Linked DNA regions of Homo sapiens. The protein of the gene in region 2 interacts with the protein of the main gene of each other region in a pairwise test. Each region holds a gene or a part of one and is shown on either strand. Other genes may lie near its edges.

Region 1 (3,752 bases), on a different chromosome or scaffold from region 2:
CTGCCATCTGCAATCTTGCTTCGGATGGCCAGTCCAACCTGCTCCTCATTATTGTATAAATGAGCAGAATCTATATGGCGGAACCCAGCTTCTATTGCTAATTTTGTGACCTCCAAAGCTTTACTTCTCGGAACCTGGAGGAGCAACCAAAGGTAGTATCTGGTGATCACTGTGGCTGAGAGGTAGTTCAGGCACAAGCATTGACTTTTATACAAGAATCAGCTTTTCCTCCTGTCTGTATGTGGGGTGAAAAGTCCATCTCAGTTTGCCTGAGTCTTTCCTGGTTAGTAATAAAGGTTGAGCATCCCAGAAACACCTTCAGTCTCAGGCAATCTCTGGTTGATCACTGTTATGGAGGTACCAAATAACACCCTCAGATTCAGTGATTTGTTGGAAAAGTTAACATGACTGAAATAGTCCTAATTATTTTTAATATAGTGATATTATACATGGTAAAAATCACATGGAGTATAGAAGGGAAACGGTGCAAGCTCATATGAGTTCTCTCCCAGTGATATTACACAGAATGCTCACTCAGACTTCCTCCAACATCGTATTTGGGAAATGCTGTCTACAAGAGATGTTCTTTGGTGTCTCAGTTCTTGAGATTTTGACTGGATGCTAGTTACATCGACCCAACTAGGGTTCACTTGGGAAATAAAGCATCTGTGAATAGTAGTCTATTAAGTCTTTTCTGCATAGTCATTCTGGCTACACAACAGAACTGAACACTAGGGGTAAAGATGTATACTCTGAGGATATCGATTTGTACATTAAAAATTCACTGAAATCTGTTAAGAATTTACTAAGGTACAGTTCTGCCATAAAAAATAAGGCTATCTCTTTCAGGAAAGACAGAATTCCAGTGAAATTTAAAATTACTGACTTATTGACCAAATTTGGATAAAGATTTGAAAGGTATTTTTTAATGACAAAAATATAAATAAACTGTTTTCATTTTTACATGTATTTAAAGAAGCTTTCTTGTTTCGTTGAAATTACAAGGAACTAGATAACGGTCTCCCCGCCATCTCCTGAGAACAGTCTTTTTTTTTTTTTTTAAATCTTTTTTGAGAGCAGTCTTTAAGTGTGCCAACACTCAAAGGTTTACCAAGGCTGGAGCTTCAGTTGTGTCGTTATTTTCATTTCCTGCCCATGCCAATTTATATTAAAAATTAAACCACTTTTGTCACTGGTCTAGAAAATGTATCCTTGTAGATCATCACAACTTATCGATAAAGTGAGAGACTCAAATTTCAATAATTAGTTCCTATTCACACACTTAGTAGCCTGAGGACAGTCTTGGAATACAAGTTCTATCTAGAAAATGAGGTCTCCATTTTGTTCATTTTTGTGTCAGAAGACCACTCCTACCACTTTGATACAAATATGATGCATACAAAAAAGGACTAAGAATTTAGACTTTCCTTTGTTAGGTTCTAGATTTTACTTAAAATGAGGTGGTATTTTTTTCTTTCAGGAAGTTCTTTTTAAAAGTGAAATAGTACAGTGGAAACTCTAGTCCAGGTCCGGTAATACTGGGTGGCACTCACTGCCGCCCATCAGAACAGTGATACTCTGCCGACAGTTTTGTGCACACCATATCCAGTAATTTTTGCTATAAGTATTTCTCTGGATCGTATGTTCTTGGAAGATGGAAAGATTTCTTCAGTTGTAGAAACAGAGAAATCACTCCTATTGCAATTAATCTCCACCAGAGGGAGATGACCAACAGTGTTCTTCAATACTGAGTTTTACATATTCTGCCAAGCTGGGAACTAGACATGAACAGAAGAAAGAAACAGTGCACAAACGAAAAATAAGCAGTACGTGACCATAGGAATGGACCTCAATGCAGAACAAGGATTGCCTACTTTTTTCTCCTAGCCTAGGAAACCTAGACCAGTGAGTCATCCAGAGTAAGGTAGGAACACGAACCTTACAACCCAATACGGGTTTCACTTCTACTAGGTTTATTCTTTTGAAATCCGAAAACTAAAAGGAATTATTCTTACCTCTGGAGGTGCATAGGTGCCAAATCCCAATACAGGCATGAAGTGGCCATCATTTAGCTTTACACACTGGTGTTTGGAATCCATTCCCTGTCACTTGTCTGACTAGCAAATGTTTGCTGCTGCTTCTCCTCAGAGATTACAAAAACAATGGGCAGGAAACCCCTCCCCCCACCCCTGCAAACTGACTGATGGTTAACCAATGGCATGTAGGAGGAGGTACATAGGCAGTCTTATATGGTCTGTGGAGAAAATTGCATTCAGTTCATTTGTTTCTTATCAAAGAGAATTCCTAAGTAAATTATTATAATATATGGTTATAATAAACTCATTAATTTCTATCTAAAGTATTATTTTCTATTCTAAATCTCTATATTAAATTATTCAAAAGGATTTGTAGAACAAATAGCAACCATATGTTAGACTATAAAAACCTCCAGCTACAAATATCTTTTTTCGTTTCTGCCGTGATAATGCCCCTTCTTTATACTGCATCATTTGAAATAATTAACCATCTTACGTCTTTCTCTCACATACACATAATTTAAAGGAATGACTAATGAGAATTTTTCAAATAGTTGGTCCTCAATAAAAAATTAAAGTTAAAACTGTAAAAATATTTGCCTTTTTACATTTTCAATCAGAAAATTTATTTTGATTTTTCTTTCTTTGCGTTGTAAGAGAAATATTCATTTCTGAAGAAGATGCAGTCCTGATAAAGCTGTAATCCTGATGAGGGTGCAAATAAAAAGAAATTCTGGTGTAGTTTTTATTGGAGTGTTAATTATTAACAGTTTTTGGAGTTTGGACATCATTTAATATATGCAAGCAGTGCCTTAATAGTATTTGTTCTTCAACCAGGTTTATTACAGACTATCAAGAAGTAACTAGCCAAAAAACTGATAACCATTTTATATAATCTGTCATCTTGTTAAACATTATTTGTAAGGAAAAACTGGAAATTAATTACATATAAATGGATGAATAATTCTCATGTGGGATAGTTTTCACTTGTTCCTTCCTTTGGAGGGCAGATTAGAACATGATGAATGTAGTTTGCACAATACATTATCAACATCTTGGAGTTGTCAGAACTTGCAATGCCCTGATTTCGTTCTATTTACTTTTCCTCAAATAATAACCAAAAAGTAAGTTGAGAAATAAGTTAATTATTATACATTGATACAATATAATATAAAATCATTGAAAGCTTTTACAGAGTGATTTCAGCAATATGGTGGATCAAAAGGCCCCTACTTGTCTCATGGACGCGTCAAGAAGTGATCTGAAATTGACTAAAATAAACTTATTTATTTATGGGGGTGCTGAGTAGAAATGTAGTATGATGCCAAGGGCAAGAGATTAGGGGAAGAGACGTGCAATAGTCCGTCTAACCCATTGAGGGGAAGCTGGGGTGTGAATTTTTGAAATAGTAAGCTATTCAAAAGCCAGTAGGTATTTGGGGGAACTACTAATGGGCACACACAGTCCAGGCAGATACAAGTTCAGAAAATTGCTGACAAGGCCTTAGGGTTTTATGTTGGGCTTATGCTAAGACTAAGAACATACCAAGCATATTAGTTGATAATCGTCATGACACAGAACAAATCTATATAGAGTTAGAAAAATGTCTATATTTTGAAATGCTCAAATAAAATAATAAGGTATATAAAGAAACAGGAAAACACAGTCCCTTATAAGAAAGAAAACGAGTTGACAGAAATTATTTTTGAAGAACCA
Region 2 (3,652 bases):
AGAATTCTATAGTCTCACAGACCTGAGTCGGATTGGTATGCACGGGTAGCTATAGCCGTGACTCAACACCTGCAGAGAAAATGTAGGGTTGTACTCCTCTCCGTGGGCACCGTTTCTGCACTGTTGCGCTGACTCAAAGCACCCTTTGAAGTCCGTGGGACCTGTATCAATGAACACTAGGAACCAGGCCCTACGTGCCAATTTCCATCATTCACAAGTACTTCAAAAAGATGAGGCAGGGCAGGAAGTTCAAAAGAATCCGCCTGCAACTGCAGAATGCAATCCTCGAAATTACAGGCACTGCCTTGTCACACAGGGCTCACCAAGCAGGTGCTTTGCAAATGCCTCCTTCTTGCCAAGAAGTCCCTGCCAAGGATTAATAGGAATTTCCAGTTCTCTAAGCATTTCTTGTTCCTCAGAGCGATTACCCCTAAACTTCTAGCACTTCAAAAATACAGGATTTAGCACCTGTTTGTTTCAGAAATACTTGCTAAAAACAGATCTGCCAAAAGGCCACCTCTAAAATTAGTCATATTTCTTGCTCTGCAAAACATAGTAAATCGTATTTTTAGTAACTCCTTCACTCCAGGTATCTGGCACTGTCATGCTCTAAGCATGATTACTGGCAACTTAGTAAGCAGGCAACCCTTACTCTTAGCCTAAAAATAGTTCTGATGGAAGTGACAAGCCGGCTTATTATTCTTTAACCAAGGGTTAGAACAAGATATTTCAACATCTTAACCAATCATTTTATGTACTCAACTTTGTATCTCAGTGAGACTCAATCACAAAAAAGGTAACAGTGGCATGGACTGTCTGTTCTTGTTCTGTAGTTTGCCTGCCTACAACACTGGCTCAATACCTGAGATACACCTACTCTTTTCTCGATTCAGCTTTTCCAACTATATTTTTTCAACTTTTATCAATTTTTTACAAAACACAATAACCTGTCATGTGCCAGAGACCATGCCTCTTGTAGGTATCACGAACCATCACCAGGGTTCAAGCAATTCTCATGTGTCAGCCACCCAAGTAGCTGGGACTACAGGTGTGCACCACCACACCCAGCTAATTTTTGTGTTTTTAGTAGAGATGGGGTTTCTCCATGTTGGCCAGGCTGGTCTCAAACTCCTGACCTCAAATGATCCACCCACTTCGGCCTCCCAAAGTGCTGGGATTACAGGCATGAGCCACCGCGTCCAGCCACTAAACCAAACTTCTAAGGAATTATCCAAATATATTGCTGATGATAAAGGACCATTGTTTTACTGATTCCTTACAAACATTATTTATAATGTCTGTATTAGAAACATTATACGTGGTTTCTAAGTTGCTTCATTTAAAGTTTAACGTTTATGGAAATTTAAAATCTTAAACTCTTTTTTTTTTTTTTTTTTTTGAGATGGAGTCTCATTCTGTCACCCAGGCTGGAGTGCAGTGGCACAATCTAGGCTCACTGCAACCTCCACCTCCCACATTCAAGCGATTCTCCTGCTGCAGCCTCCAAAGTAGCTGGGATTACAGGTATGCACCACCACACCTGGCTAATTTTTGCATTTTTATTAGAGACAGGGTTTCACCATGTTGGCCAGGCTGATCTAGAACTCCTGACCTCAAGTGATCCACCCACCTTGGCCTCCCAAAGTGCTGGGATTACAGGCATGAGCCACCACGTCTGTCCTGTTTCTGGACCTCACTTCAATTTTCTGTAAGTCACTTTCCTTATTCTGTCGACAGATGATATTATCTGATCATGCAGCAGCCCCCAAGTCACTCTGTCTGGTTGGGGGCCAGGGCGGGGGGCACTTGTTATGTGCCAGAGACCACGCCTCTCATAGGTATCACAAATCAATACCAGGCTCTGCAAGCACAACCACTCCAGGTGTTTCAAAGTCATTACCCCATACTGTTGCTCAACAGCTTTGCTCTTCGTCTCAAAGCCAGAGAGTGGTACTTTTCAGAATCTGGTTTTGTGATCATTTTCCCTGGTCTAATCATCAACTTTGGTCAAAGACACTCAGCCCTGACTGTGAAGGTACCTATTAAGAGTTTCACATGGCCAAGTGAACTATTTATTTTTAAAGCCAGATTAACAGAGATTGCATTAACTCAAAGGAGGACACAATTAGGTCTCAGCCGCAAGCCATCTTTCCTTTACAAGCAGTAAAAGAGCCATCTAGATTCAAATGGCTTCTAAACAAACAACTTCAGAGGAAAAGCAGGCAAAAGATTGTCCTACAGGCAGTGGTGGCAAAAGCAGCCTCTTGATGAGATCAAATTGAAACCTAAAAGGAAAGTTGGGAAAAACTGGCTCCCTTTGTCATCTGGACTCAGACAGTGATTCCCAGCAAACCATGAAGGATTTCACCCAAAGCTTTTTGGAAGTGTAACCAAGTCGAAACACAACACGCTACACACACACACACACCCCCATACCAAATGCCTTCAACTAGCAATGCCCTAGATTTTAGCACAAATCACCCAAAACTAATTCTCACAGTTTGAGAATGCAGCTATGAAGCAGGCCAAACTTGGGGTGCCCTCTCAACTTCTGTTTCCCTATGCCCTCTTTCAGCTTTTTCATGGACTGATTTCCCAAGACAAGCTGCCCTGAATCCTTTCGCTCCACGTGGGCTGGGAGTACTTCTCACTACAGTATTAATGACTTCATTCCCCTCCTAATGTGGAATGGATCCTTTATAAAAGGATGGGCCAGGTGCAGTGGCTCACATCTGTAATTGTAGCACTTTGGGAGGCCAAGGTGGGAGGATCACTTGAGGCCAGGAGTTGGAGACCAGCCTGAGCAACACAGTGAGACCCCTGTCTTTATAAAAAATTTAAAAAATAAATAGATAGGACAGGAGAAAAGTGAAATTCTAAATCCAAAATGTACACACCCCAAGAAAAGAGGAATTAATGAGGGAGAGAGGCCTCCCTGGGTCACCCACAGTGGGGGACACTGGAGGCTTAATGACCTCCTTTTCCTCAGCTCTGCTCACTGGAGGAAACTTTCCCCAGGCCAAAATCATCTTAGTAGCTCACCTTTTAAAAGAACTTCAGGTTGTAAATAGCCTGAGGCTGTGGTCATCTTTGTTTTGGCCTTAGTTAGGCAATACCCAAAACTAGAGTGGGAATGAGGACTCATTTTAATTTAGCAATCTTTCTCAGAGTCAAGCATACACACACAACCATTTTAATCCCCACAATCTGCTAAAACCCAAATCTATTAGTTAAGCATTAAAGGTGCTGGATTTGGGAGATAAATGTTATGAATGACACCATTGTTTCTTTAAAGCCAGCAATTGAGTGAACTAAAATCCAGATTTCTCCCAATGCCCGCAATCCCTGGAGCACTGATTCTCCCCGCTGGGGAGGAGCATCCCGGGAAAACCAAGTTTTTCAACACAGACATCTCTCCCCTGCCTCCTTCTCCACCCAAAGAACCACCATCCTTACCCGCAGTCCACCAATGGGTCCAGGGGAATAATTTTACATCCAATTAACATCTCCTGTCATTGCAACAATGAAGTGAGATTCATCATTTAAGAAACATAAGATGGGAGGGAAGGGGAGTGGGCACCTGGGGAAGCAGCGAGTCTCTTCATGTGAATCCTATTTGGGCAAGAATTCCCTGCATGTCGGGGTTCCCAGT
Region 3 (3,652 bases), on a different chromosome or scaffold from region 2:
CAGGTCTCTGCTCTTGCCCTTCACGTCCCCAGGCATGTCCTCTCCTCTCCTCGGCGTCGCAGTCCCTGTCTCTCCCACCTTCCCCTGCTCTCTTCCTCCTGAGCTCCCAACGTGATTCCTGCTTGTGCTGCTCAGGGGACACTAAGCTTTCTATAGGGAGTGATGTCAACCCAGCTGAAAGCCTCTAGAGAACAAGGAGCTCATCTCAGGCATCCTAGCTACCCCATCCTGGCCCGGGACACAGAGCAGGGCCAGGTATGCACTAGGGCCATCCTCCAAGTCTGTCCAACAGCAGGCCACTGCCTACACAAATGTCATAGGCAGGCAGTGCTCAGAAGACAGGCGTGTGGTGCACAGACAGCATGGCTTGGGAAACAGGGTGGCGCAGCCCCTGTCTTCCTCAGTGACCCTCAGGTGTCCTCTCCCTGGTCTTAGCTACTAAGATCTGATGAGATGCAAGGTCCACTCTAGATCTAAGATTCCATGATTCATGTGTTCATTCACTGAATACAGCCTGTGTGCTAGGCACTGTGCAGCTGGAACTCAGAACAGAGGGTCAGGAGAAAAGGCTATAGTGGAGGCCGAATCTAGAAATATGAGTTGGGACTGGGTGACACATCTTTGTGTGTTTGTGTGTGTGGGTCGGGTATGTGTGTTTGGTCAGACCAAAAAGTACAGAGTCAAGAGAAAACGTGATTGCCCCTGACAGACACAGAGATGCAGAGTAAGAACAAAACAAAGATTTCTACAAAGTGTTCCAGAAGCTTGGAGAAAACCACCATTATTTCCAGCCAGAGCGGTGGCTGGCAGGACGCTGACTGAAAAAGTGGCGAGGCTGGGTGCAGAAGCCTGGCTAAGGTTTGCTTGGGGCCTGCGTGGGGTCATGATTATTCTAAACAGCAAACTGTGGCTGTGTTCAGGGATCAAAGACCAACATTTGGTGGGGTTGGGGTAGGGCATCTGGAAAACAGGGATGGGGGCACAGTGGCGTCTGGAGAGGGCATGGCGCCTGACAGCAGGGGCCCCGCATGGCAGGTTCCGAGGCTCCGAGCTCTCTAAGGCTCCACCCTTACCCTGCGACAGGCGGTCATTGCTCTCGCTGGGTCCAAGCAGCAGGTCCTGGCTGGGTAGACTCTCCGAGTGATTCAGGCAGGACAGCTCCAGGCTGTCTGTGTTCTCCCTTGTAAGGAATGAGGTCCCAGGGGCCAGAGGGAGGGTCATGGGGCGGGGACTGGTAGCAGGGCAGGGTCTGCAGAGACAGGGAAGATGGTGCTGGGAGGAAAGTCACCAGGTGAGAGGCGCAAGGCTGCTCCCCAACCCCACTCTATGTCCCTTAGCGACAGAAGTCAGGCTTCTCACCCTGGGCTCAGGCATTCTTGGATGTCAGACACCCAGGCCTTCACATGCTGGGCATCCACTGTCTCCATGATATACTCGGATGGACCTTCCACCTACAGAGATGAGACGACGCCTCAGCTGGGGCAGGGGCAGGGAGGAGGCTTAATCCATGCCTAATGAGAACAATGTATGCAGGCTGTCTACAAACAAGATGCATTCGAATTCTCTCTGGAGGCCGGGTACAGAGGCTCACACCTGTAATCCCAGCACCTCTGGAGGATCACTTGAGCCCAGGAGTTGGACCAGTCTGGGCAACATAGTGAGAACCTGTCTCTAAAAAAATTGAAAAATAAAATAAGGCGAGGCCGGGTACGATGGCTCACACCTGTAATCCCAGCACTTTGAGAGGCCAAGGAGGGTGGATCACAAGGTCAAGAGTTCGAGACCAACATGACCAATGTGGTGAAACCCTGTCTCTACTAAAAACAAAAATTAGCCAGGCGTGGTGGCAGGCGCCTGTAGTCCCAGCTACTCGAGAGGCTGAGACAGGAGAATCGCTTGAACCCGGGAGGCGGAGGTTGCAGTGAGCCAAGATCATGCCACTTCAACTCCAGCCTGGGAGACAGAGTAAAATGCCGTCTCAAAAATATAAAAAATAAAAATAAAATAAAATAAAATAGGCCAGGCGCAGTGGCTCACGCCTATAATCCCAGCACTTTGGGAGGCTGAGGCGGGCAAATCACGAGGTCAGGAGATCGAGACCATCCTAGCTAACTTGGTGAAACCCCGTCTCTACTAAAAATACAAAAAAATTATCCGGGCGTGGTGGCGGACGCCAGTAGTCCCAGCTACTCGGGAGGCTGAGGCAGGAAAATGGCATGAACCCGGGAGGTGGAGCTTGCAGTGAGTCGAGATCGCGCCACTGCACTCCAGCCTGGGCGACAGAGCGAGACTCTGTCTCAAAAAAAATAAATAAATAATAAAATAAAATAAGGCCAGGCACAGTGGCTCACGCCTGTGATCCCAACACTTTGGGAGGCCAAGTGGGGTGGATCACTTGAGGCCAGTTTGAGACCAGCCTGCCGAACATGGCAAAACCCATTTCTGCTAAACATACAAAAAATTAGCTGGGCATAGTGGTGCATGCCTGTAATCCCAACTACTCAGGAGGCTGAGGCACAAGAATCGCTTGAACCTGGGAGGCAGAGGTTGCAGTGAGCCAAGATCGCGCCGCTGCACTCCAGCCTGTGCGGCAGAGCAAGGCTCTATCTCAAATGTAAGTAAGTAACAAAATTAGCCAGGCATGGTGTCACATGCCTGTAGTCCCAGCTCCTTAGAGGGCTGAGGCAGGACGATCACTTGAGCCCAGGAGTTCGAGGCTACACGAGGCTACAGTGAGCTATGATCAGGTTGCTGCACTCCTGACTTAGAGGGAGACCCTGTCTCTCTAAAACAACCACAACAACAAAAACTCCACAGTTCTCTTTCAAGTGGAGGCATTGTTTTTGAGAGTAAGAACATTTCCCTGTCTTCCGCTATCCCAGAAAAGCTGCAGCCCCAGGGACACACTCTCAAGGCACTGGACACATATATATACCTCCTTTCGGCGACGCCACTTGCTTAAATGCGCTGAGGGCTTTCTCCTTAACACAAGCACTGCCGGCGGCTGGGAAGTTGAATTCCTACCTTAACCACAAACGTGTTCTCCCGGTCAGGCATCTCCAGGGCTGTGGTTGTCCGGACGTCTGTGATAGAAGAGCAGGGGATGCTGAGTCGGGGCCGAGAGGCCTAAGTCAGGAGAAAGAAACAGATCTGGGTGTTTGGTTTCCAAAGACCACTCTTCCCCTCCCTCCAGACATTCATCTTTCCTTCTACATCCTCGGGAAGTTAGACAAAAGGCAGTCACACTGCTTTCTCAGTCCTGCCCGCAGCTGCTAACACAGAGCCAAGAGCCAGCTTTACCAACAAAAAGTGAGCGACACCAGGGCCATGGGCTGGTAAACCCCAGAGCTTATCTGCAGGGCTGTGACCACTCTGAGCACTCTCTCACTTGCTCTCAGTCACCCACCCTCCAAGGGGCCTCACCTTGGGTGGTACAAAGAACTCCAGGCGACTTCCTCCTCCTCCTTCTCCTTCACTTCGAAGCAGCAGGCGACACTTCTGCCACTGAGGCTGCCCTCCTCCCCCTGAAGGAGGCCCAGCCACCCCTCCTCCCCGGCCCACTCCGGCTGGGTCAGGGGCTGCCTCCTCAGCCCCCATGAAACTCAGCAGCTCTTCCCTCTGCACCATCCCTGCTCCATCCTTCAAGGCGCCC

Evidence for each region.
Region 1: the proteins of HUNK (region 2) and AKR1C3 interact in a two-hybrid assay, tested with the Homo sapiens proteins (one large-scale study listed by BioGRID and IntAct).
Region 3: the proteins of HUNK (region 2) and SH2B1 interact in a two-hybrid assay, tested with the Homo sapiens proteins (one large-scale study listed by BioGRID and IntAct).

The regions. Positions count from the first base shown.
Region 1 is NC_000010.11:5,092,792-5,096,543, reverse strand, and holds the start of AKR1C3 (aldo-keto reductase family 1 member C3), read right to left. Parts: upstream 2,131-3,752; 5' UTR 2,100-2,130; coding exon 2,016-2,099; intron 135-2,015; coding exon 1-134. UniProt on the Homo sapiens protein: Cytosolic aldo-keto reductase that catalyzes the NADH and NADPH-dependent reduction of ketosteroids to hydroxysteroids.
Region 2 is NC_000021.9:31,876,006-31,879,657, reverse strand, and holds part of HUNK (hormonally up-regulated neu tumor-associated kinase), read right to left. Parts: intron 1-3,652.
Region 3 is NC_000016.10:28,866,805-28,870,456, reverse strand, and holds part of SH2B1 (SH2B adapter protein 1), read right to left. Parts: coding exon 3,424-3,652; intron 3,127-3,423; coding exon 3,025-3,126; intron 1,452-3,024; coding exon 1,360-1,451; intron 1,250-1,359; coding exon 1,074-1,249; intron 1-1,073. UniProt on the Homo sapiens protein: Adapter protein for several members of the tyrosine kinase receptor family.